Linked DNA regions of Homo sapiens: regions 2 and 3 are each linked to region 1. Evidence: fine-mapped QTL for protein levels in blood plasma. A gene starts in region 1. Each other region holds a variant in brackets. All regions are shown on one strand. Distances are between the middles of the regions.

Region 1 (2,764 bases):
GGCCCCTGGCCCCCCATGGAACATAAGCCTCAGTATGCACAGGGCGTTTTCAGCTACCCCAACACATTGGCTTGCTACCTCAACTATGGAAAACCAGCGGGGGAGGAATTGCCATCTTTTTGAGAAGAGGGAGTGAGACTCAGAGAATGATGCCTTTTTTTTTTTTTAACCCAAGGTCACCCTGCTTGTCGTTGGCCAAGCCAGGCCTAGAATCTGGGTCTCCAGACTCTGGGTCTGCTACTCAGGGCACAAAAGAAGAAAACATTCTGAGTTACACCCCTTCTTGGCCAGTAGTTGAGGGTAAATTAACGAAAAGAATTAATTTGTCTGTAACTCTTGTCTGTTGCTCTCTGTTTAGGAAGAACTAAAAACTCCACAAATTCAACAGTCTCCCCTCTGTCTCCACTGAACTATCCCTCCATTTTCACCACACTTTTTGGCTGCCATTCACAAAAAAAGCTGAAGCCAGCCATGGGTAACTATTAAAATCCATGTGGTTGCAGAGACAGCATCCCTATCACATGAGCTTTTGCCCTGTCCCCAAGGCCCTCTGTCATCTCCACTCCTTGTGGGCCACCACAGCAAGGCTGACTCACTGGCTCTGAAGAAGATCCACAAAGCCTGTGGAGAGGAGGCCCACAGCTCTCCAGGATGCATGAGGAGGGGCCACCAGGGATGGCCACCCCAGCGACCCCCATTTTCCCTCTTGGCCCATGGGAAATCCTAGGAGGCAACATAAGCCTGTGGCAGCCCCTCCACAAAGCCCTGCCTCCAGAGTTCCCATAGGCGAGAATGTGTCCTCAGTGGAGCATTACCTTGCACAGCCTGTGAAGTGCTCTGTGCGGGGATAAAGGCAAGTAACGTGGGGTCCTCTCTCAAGGAATTGCTAGCTTATGGGGAGAGAAAACTAAACGTGGAAGCCCCAACAGTGTGACAAATGCCCCATGAATGGCAGGCAGAAGTTAGAGTATGAAGGGGGCCCCACCTCAGGAGGTCGGGGAGTGTGGCGTCAGCCACTGCCCCATAGCAGGATGTGTGCAACATCTGCCACTGGTACTCAGCATCTGCCACCTCGCTGACCCTCATTTGACCCTCCCAGGCAAGTGCTGTGATGACCCCCTCCCTGGTGAGGAGCCGGCCAGGACTTGGATCCAAGAAGTCTGGCTTCAAACCCCATGCTCTGACCGCTCGATGGCACCGCTTCCTTGGCAGGACATCTACAGCTCCCAGGGCACCCAGGGGACATCAGCCTCTGAAAGGGGAATGGTCAGACCCGGGAGGCCTTGAATGCCATGCTAAGGAGTTCGGACTTGACAAGAGGCAGCAGCAAAGGGTTTTGATAACCTGGTTAGACGTGCTCTGATTTATTGTATTTCACTGCTGCAAGATTTACTGGACAAAGAGGAGGAGGGGGAGAAGACAGTGAGTGCAGTGAAAGGTGTCTAGAAGCCCAAGCAAAGGCCAGGGGTGGGGCGTAGAGAGGCAATGGAAAGGCACCCAGACACCCAGGCTTCCAGCCTGAGCGCGGAGTGCATGCAGGCTGCGCGGTGGCCGCCCGGGTTGCAGGGAACGCGCGGGCCAGCGACTCTGCGGTGCTACCCCGTGCCCGCACTCACCCAGGACGGCGCAGACCAGCAGGGCTCCCACGGCGAGCCTCATCTTCCGGGTGCGGCGCTGAGCAGCGAGCACAGTCGGACTCGCTTCTGTGCAGCCTCCGGCGCCCCGCGTCCCTTTATTCCATTCCCGGCCTGGGCGGGCTGGGCGCAATCTTTGACCTCCCGTGTTTGTGCAGCCGGGTTGCCCAATCGCCCCTCTCCCAACCCCCCTTCCTTACTCGTCCCACTGATCACCTCATTTTCTGAGCTCTGGAGACGACCCGCGAGTGGAAGGAGTCCAGCACAGAAATGTTGATGGGAAGGGACATGAAGCACAATGCAGCCATTGTCATCGCGGCTCGCTCGGTGCCAGGAGCGGCTACGGCGGGCTGGGAGCCGGGGGGCTCTGCTCCTGACTCCAGGGCTGCAGAGCTGGTCCGTGCCACCAGTCCTATCTGCGCAGTCCACAGAGGAAGACTCCGAGGCTGGAGAGGGAAAAGAACTGCGCCCAGACCCCACACTAGAACTGCAGAATGACAGGCAAAGCCCCTTTTGGGGGAGGATGCAGGAGAAACAAGCTGGGCTCAAGGTCAAAGACAGACTCAGCACCTTTTGCTCCCCACCAGGTGTCCCTCGAAATCCTGCTCCTGGGCTCTCAAAGGTCCCCCACGGAGGAGCTGCTCCCTCTTCCTGCCCCGCTGAGCTCAGGCTCCTGGGCTGGAAAACTTCCCGCCCTCAAGCTTCCTGTGGGACACCTTAGACTAGGGACAGAGTCATAGGGGAAGATGAACTCCCTCCAACAAGAAGGTTCCAGGAACATGGTCAAGACACTGTGAGGCTCAGAACAAAGTGTCATCTTAGCACAAAGCAAGCGGCCCAGTGGACGGTGTGGCCTGTTCTTACAGCCTGGGGCCACCATGTCCCCCTCTAGTCGATGAGTCTCCTAACCAGTTTAATTACACATCCTTATCATGAAAAATATTGAACTTGTGCCTTCTATATGCTTATATTTTAACTAAAAAATGTGTACACTTCAATCATGCACAAGGAATAGAAATTTGTAAAAGGATGAGCTAAAGATGAAACTCATTTTCAAATGTCGTTTTGCTTATGCGGCCTTATACAGGATTATTATCTCAAGGCATAATATACTTGGGGAAAGGTCAAGA
Region 2 (2,764 bases), 14 kb before region 1:
TGCAAATGCACAAACGTCATCTATTACTGGGAGATTCTTCAGAGTTGGCTCTACTTTCCCAAGGGAAACATAGTCTCCTGCCTGTAGTTTTACAAGGTCCTTTTTATGATCGATCATCTGTAAACAACCATCAAACTCTTCAGCATCTCTAGGACATAATCACTTCTGTCCATTTCCATCTTCAAATAAATCAGCTTTTGTTTCTGCTTCATTTCTGTAGCATCCCATTGTCACATTTTAGCCACCGATAAGAATTCTACCTCTGGGATGTGGTTTTTCAGTATTAAAGTATCCACCTTCCTCCCAGTTCTTTAATTTAATTTCACAGCAAACTAATGGGACTCTCACTTCTGCCAGTCTTGTAATCCACACATCTGTAATTGTTCCAGCCCCTGTAGGTTCAGTGAGTCTGTATTCATGAACTTGCTGCGTGTTGCAGAAAGTGGAGCACTTTCATACAATAAAAGCTGAATATTTCCACCTAGCTAGCTTCACAGTTTCCAGAAAACAAAGCTGTCACACAATCCAGTACTATGCTCTTTTGAAATGTGTTCCATTTTATAATTATAAGCCAGAATAAACAGATTGTGTTGAAGACTACTGATTTCATACACTTAATTCATGACATTTTGGTAGATCTGATCCATGATTTCCAGAACAGCTGCCATCAGTGTTGGTCTCAACCCAGAAGTACACCCTTTGCTTCTGGTTTTTATTTTTTTATTTTTTATTTTTTTGAGATGGTGTCTCACTATGTTTCCCAGGCTGGACTCAAACTCCTGGGCTCAAGCAATCCTCCTACCTTAGCCTCCTGAGTAGCTGGTACTACAGCTGCATGCCACAGTGGGCAGCCCATTTTTTACTTTTAAAGACTGATCCACTGAAGTCTGGGGTGAAGAGGAGCCAAGCAGGCATCCATGAGAAAAACAAAGAAGCTCAAAGCTTAATTCTAGAACATGGGCCACAGGTAAATATCCAATGTAGTCATCTTCCTCCTCCAGTCTGGGAATCCTTTCTGCCATCCCAGTAATACCAGTAATGATGTTTCTATGCGAGATGATGACTCCCTTTGGAAGTCCTGTGTGTCTACTCATGAACATGATTACTGCAATAACCGAGGGCACTGGTCACTTTGGGATCTGTTTTCCACACTCACCTTCACTTTCTACTGCAGCCATGATGTCCATGATAACAACCTTGGGAAATTGGGACAGGTCAGTGGCTTCCCATTGACAGTGATGATGTGTCACAGGTGTGGGACCAAATAAACTATGTCTTTCAACTTTGTTTCCAATAATTCTTTACTAGCAATGAGATTAGTTACTTTTGTTTCATTAATCCATGGGCCCTGGACCTCCTAAAGTAGCATATAATTTTATGAACTAAATGTTATGCATGAAACATACCTATCCAGCAATCATCCACTTGGACGTGGTCTCACAGAACATGGCAATGTTGGTCTTTGGTTTCTGCCCCAACATCTGTAAGCTATTTCCAACATTAAAGGCTCAAACGATGACATCTTCATAGGAGAGCAAATTATGATGTCCAAGAAGAACCTTTTAAAATATGTTT[A/C]CATTTGGTTGTACTTAATCTTCATTTAAGATTTCACATGTTCCCAAGAGTCTTTTGCTCTTCCTTTTTTTTACAGACGTAAAAAACTTTATCTATTGTATCACATCCAGAGTATAATATTGAAGCCCAGCCACTCAAACTGCTAACAGATTTGTATAGACTCAGGTTTTGAATTTGTAGGCTTTGCTTTAACTTAGTTTGGTTTTTCTTGTCTTGACTCAGACAAAAATTAAAATGGAATATATGTTAAAATAGCATAAAGTGATATCTATAAATTGTATGAAATATAAAATAATGAGCTTGATGGTCCCTTTTTGCTTCATGGTAGATAGTTCTGAAGATACATGGTTATTCATAAGTGCTCAAAAAGTAGAATTAACATATTTCAGCAAAAATCTGTTGACAATGGCAGGAAGTACCTTTATAATATGCATCTTTGTTTCAATATATTTGCTGATTTATTATAAAGGATCCAACTCAAGAATAGCCAAATGGAAGAGACACAGAGGGCAAGAAATGTGGGGAGGAGGGGGAGTGGAGCTTGGCACTTCATGTTCTCTCTAGGCAAACCATACTCCCCCATCTCGATGTGTGCACTAACACAGAAGCTCCAGATTAGGTTTTACAAGAATGATTTATGATATGGGAAAAGCTTACTAGATACTGTGAGTGAGTAAAAGGTAGCAAGCAACCTACATGAAATGATCCCAATAAGGGAATTTTCTCTGAATTACATGATTATAAGTACTTTTTATTTCTTCTTTATATCATTCAGGATTTTAAAAATTCTCTGTAAGCCAACATGGAATATTCTTTCTTAAAAAAAAAATGTTGTTAGAGACAAGGTCCTGCTAAGTTGCTAGCCCTGAACTCCTGGGCTCAAGCAATCCTCCTGCCTCAGCTTTCGAAGTAGCTGGGACTACAGGTGCATGCCACCATGCCAGGCTAGGATACTCTTTTGATCAACAAAGCAAATTTGTACCTGATTGGATCCTACCATGTACTCAGGATCTTATCTCAGTGATCGTGGCACACCACTGGTCTCAGGACACCCACACCATGGTCCAGCCTCCCTAAGCAGGCACTGCTCAGCCTGCCCTTTCACCATACACTCATACAAGGAGGAAACTGAGCCCTGTGGGCACCCTTCAGATCCACAAGCTCAAAGATTCTGAACCTCCGGTGGGGC
Region 3 (2,764 bases), 24 kb before region 1:
TCTTCTTGTAGGACAGGGTATGCCATCTGGGAAGGCTTCCTGGAGGGGCTGGTGCTGAGCCGGTTCATTCTGGATGAGTTGCCCAGGAAAAGTGAGGAGTTGGGGAATGAACATGAGAGAAGGCAGGGAAGTATTCACAGCTTGAATTCCAGTGGGCTCTGCTAGCACTTAGTGATACTGAGGGGTCAGGTGTGGAGTGCTCAGTCTGGCCAATGTTTGTTTTGCTTTGTTTTGTTTGTTTTTATTAATATTATGGCTGTCCAACGTTCACCCACAAGTTAACACCCATTGATTCTTTTTTTTTTTTTTTTTTTTTTTGAGACGGAGTCTCGCTCTGTCGCCCAGGCCGGACTGCGGACTGCAGTGGCGCAATCTCGGCTCACTGCAAGCTCCGCTTCCCAGGTTCACGCCATTCTCCTGCCTCAGCCTCCCGAGTAGCTGGGACTACAGGCGCCCACCACCGCGCCCGGCTAATTTTTTGTATTTTTAGTAGAGACGGGGTTTCACCTTGTTGGCCAGGATGGTCTCGATCTCCTGACCTCATGATCCACCCGCCTCGGCCTCCCAAAGTTCTGGGATTACAGGCGTGAGCCACTGCGCCCGGCTTAACACCCATTGATTCTTGCTTGAATCAGTTATCAATATATTGGTTGCCAAGTGATAGTTTTCTAACTCTATCATTCCTTCCACATTGATTAGTTTTCCCTTCTTCATTTGTTTAATCAGTATTGCCTCATGCATTCTTATTTCTTTCAATGGGCTATTATCCCTTACTGCTATCATTATTTATTTTAATGCTCAAAATTCCCAGACTTGGCAACAGGAGATCCTTCAAATTGGTTCTTGTATGCTTTGAGTGTCCCATCACTGTTTGAGCACTTCAGTGTGTTGTTCTAGGCTCAGCATCTATTTTTCCTGCCCCAGCCCTGAAGTCAGCTATTTTTCCAAGGAGTTCTGGTTCCTTTTAGTAAAGAAGAGTACTTACAAGCCAATATCTTGGTGCTTACTCCTGCTGGTATGCCATTGCCTCTAGGCCTTCTCAATGGACACAACCCAGAAGTACAGTAAATAGCTATAAAAGGCATTACTGGGATAACTGACAACAGTTAAATGTGGACTGTGGA[C/T]GTGACGAGTATTAAATCCACATAATGTAAAAGATCCTGATCTTGGTAATCATACTGTGGGTATGCAAGAGATTGTCTTATTCTTAGGAAATAGGCACTGAAGTATTTAGGGGAAAGGAGCACAAGGCTTGCAGCTGTGGGAGTGTGTGTTGGGGAGGATTTAGGGCCATTGGGGGCCCCATAATCCTGATCATTCTGCGCACTCAGGTGAACATGTCTCTCTTCACTGAGCAGACAGACTGAGAATCAGAGCTTTGAAGTCTGACAGTGTACATAATACTTCCACAAAGGCATCCCTGAATACAAGTGAATACCAGTGACCAGGATCTAGTGATCTAGGGGGACAGAGGAGCAGGTGCACTTACCCCCAGTGTTCTGTGGGACAGTCTGGTGTTTCACAAAGGCCACATCTCCCTTCTCAACCAGACACCTGCAGAGGTCCAGAAGTGGGAGAGAAAAAAAAAGGCGGTCAGAGTGACTTATCTGTCATTCAGGGGGCTACCTTATAGATTCAGGACAGCCATCTGAAAACAGCAACTGTAACTTCCATTCTAACAGTAAGCAATGTAAGGAATAAAGAGAACAAAAACAAAACACTCTGAATTGATTGTAGTTTTACAATCTCAGTTCCACATACTAAATCTTAATTTTTTGTACTGTTTCTCTGAGAGATGACATAATTTCCCTGACATCAACAAGGATAGTAGGGAATTGATTTTCAGTGAGGTGATGCCTCCCCCAGCATATGAATGAAAAACTCAGTTCCTTCAGGTTCTCATACAAGGCGAATGTCTAGGCAACATTTGTGAGAGACTGAAACTCCATCACAAATTGCAATTTGTGCTGTCCTTCATTCCTTTGAAAAAGAATTTTAACATTTATGGAGCATTTGCTATGTTGTGGGTTTTTTTGTTTTTGTTTTTGAGAAATGCAGAGAATATGGCAAAACATGGCATAAAGGCACCTGACTCTACTAACTCCCAGGCCACATATCTCTGGGTGTGGTAATGGGGGTTGTAACACAGCTCTGAGCTACAAGTCCCCAAGAAGTTTCAGAAAAGAAATAATAACAAAATAAACTCTGGTTAGTAGGGTTCTAATTTTAATTTTGACTGTCTTCCAGTCCTTTGAAAGGGCATACCACACAGATGATGAACTAGTGTGTACTTCAAAATCTACACAAGGCCCTCCTCAATGAGCCGAGTGGGTTGGACTTTTGGACAATGGACTGAACCCTGCTCTCCATGTACTTTAATCCCCTTGCTTCAAGGAAAAGAACCTGCCTATTACTGCATCGGTTCAAGAGTTTTGGGGGTAGCTAGCTGAGAAGACGGGGTACCTATTGTGCCACATATTGATTTAATTTTATTTTCTTTGGAGTTTGGAGTCTTTTTATCAGTCTGGTACATTTTACTTCATAGCTAAGTTTTATAAGACATGTTTAGAAAAAGAAGCCTTTATACACATTTATTTTAAGCATGTTTATACATACATGTTATTTGAGCCTTTTCTCATGACCTATAATTCTCAAACATATGTTATCACCAGAAAAAGACAAGGTACAAAAATGCAAAGGGGAACTCTATTTTAAGTCCCCCAAACTCTTCAATCTTTATGAAAACAACATGCTCTACTTTGTG

Direction of the effects. Positions count from the first base shown, and alleles are read on the strand shown. Strength reflects both the effect of a copy and how common the allele is.
As copies of C replace A in region 2, the plasma level of the protein whose gene starts at base 1,707 in region 1 goes up (strong association).
As copies of T replace C in region 3, the plasma level of the protein whose gene starts at base 1,707 in region 1 goes down (weak association).

The links. A credible set is the group of variants that fine-mapping cannot tell apart. PIP is the chance, under the fine-mapping model, that this variant and not a neighbour inherited with it causes the effect. The UK Biobank Pharma Proteomics Project read protein levels with antibody pairs (Olink). The fine-mapping took linkage between variants from a reference panel, not from the people measured, so its PIPs are less certain.
Region 2: its variant is the best candidate, but not a certain one, in a credible set for the plasma level of the TF protein (UK Biobank, PIP 0.85).
Region 3: its variant is the best candidate, but not a certain one, in a credible set for the plasma level of the TF protein (UK Biobank, PIP 0.74).

Annotation. Positions count from the first base shown.
Region 1 is chr3:133,745,336-133,748,099 of GRCh38, reverse strand. TF (transferrin) reads right to left here and starts at 1,707. Exons shown (of 17, transcript NM_001063.4): 1 at 1,617-1,707. The coding sequence starts at 1,659.
Region 2 is chr3:133,759,467-133,762,230 of GRCh38, reverse strand. The region is part of intron 9 of TF (transferrin); the gene reads right to left. It also overlaps the pseudogene ACSL3P1. Among named protein-coding and RNA genes, the nearest start is that of TF, 14 kb to the right of the region's middle. The variant A/C (reference allele first, on the strand shown) is at 1,576.
Region 3 is chr3:133,769,298-133,772,061 of GRCh38, reverse strand. TF (transferrin) reads right to left here. Exons shown (of 17, transcript NM_001063.4): 14 at 1,490-1,554. Among named protein-coding and RNA genes, the nearest start is that of TF, 24 kb to the right of the region's middle. The variant C/T (reference allele first, on the strand shown) is at 1,125.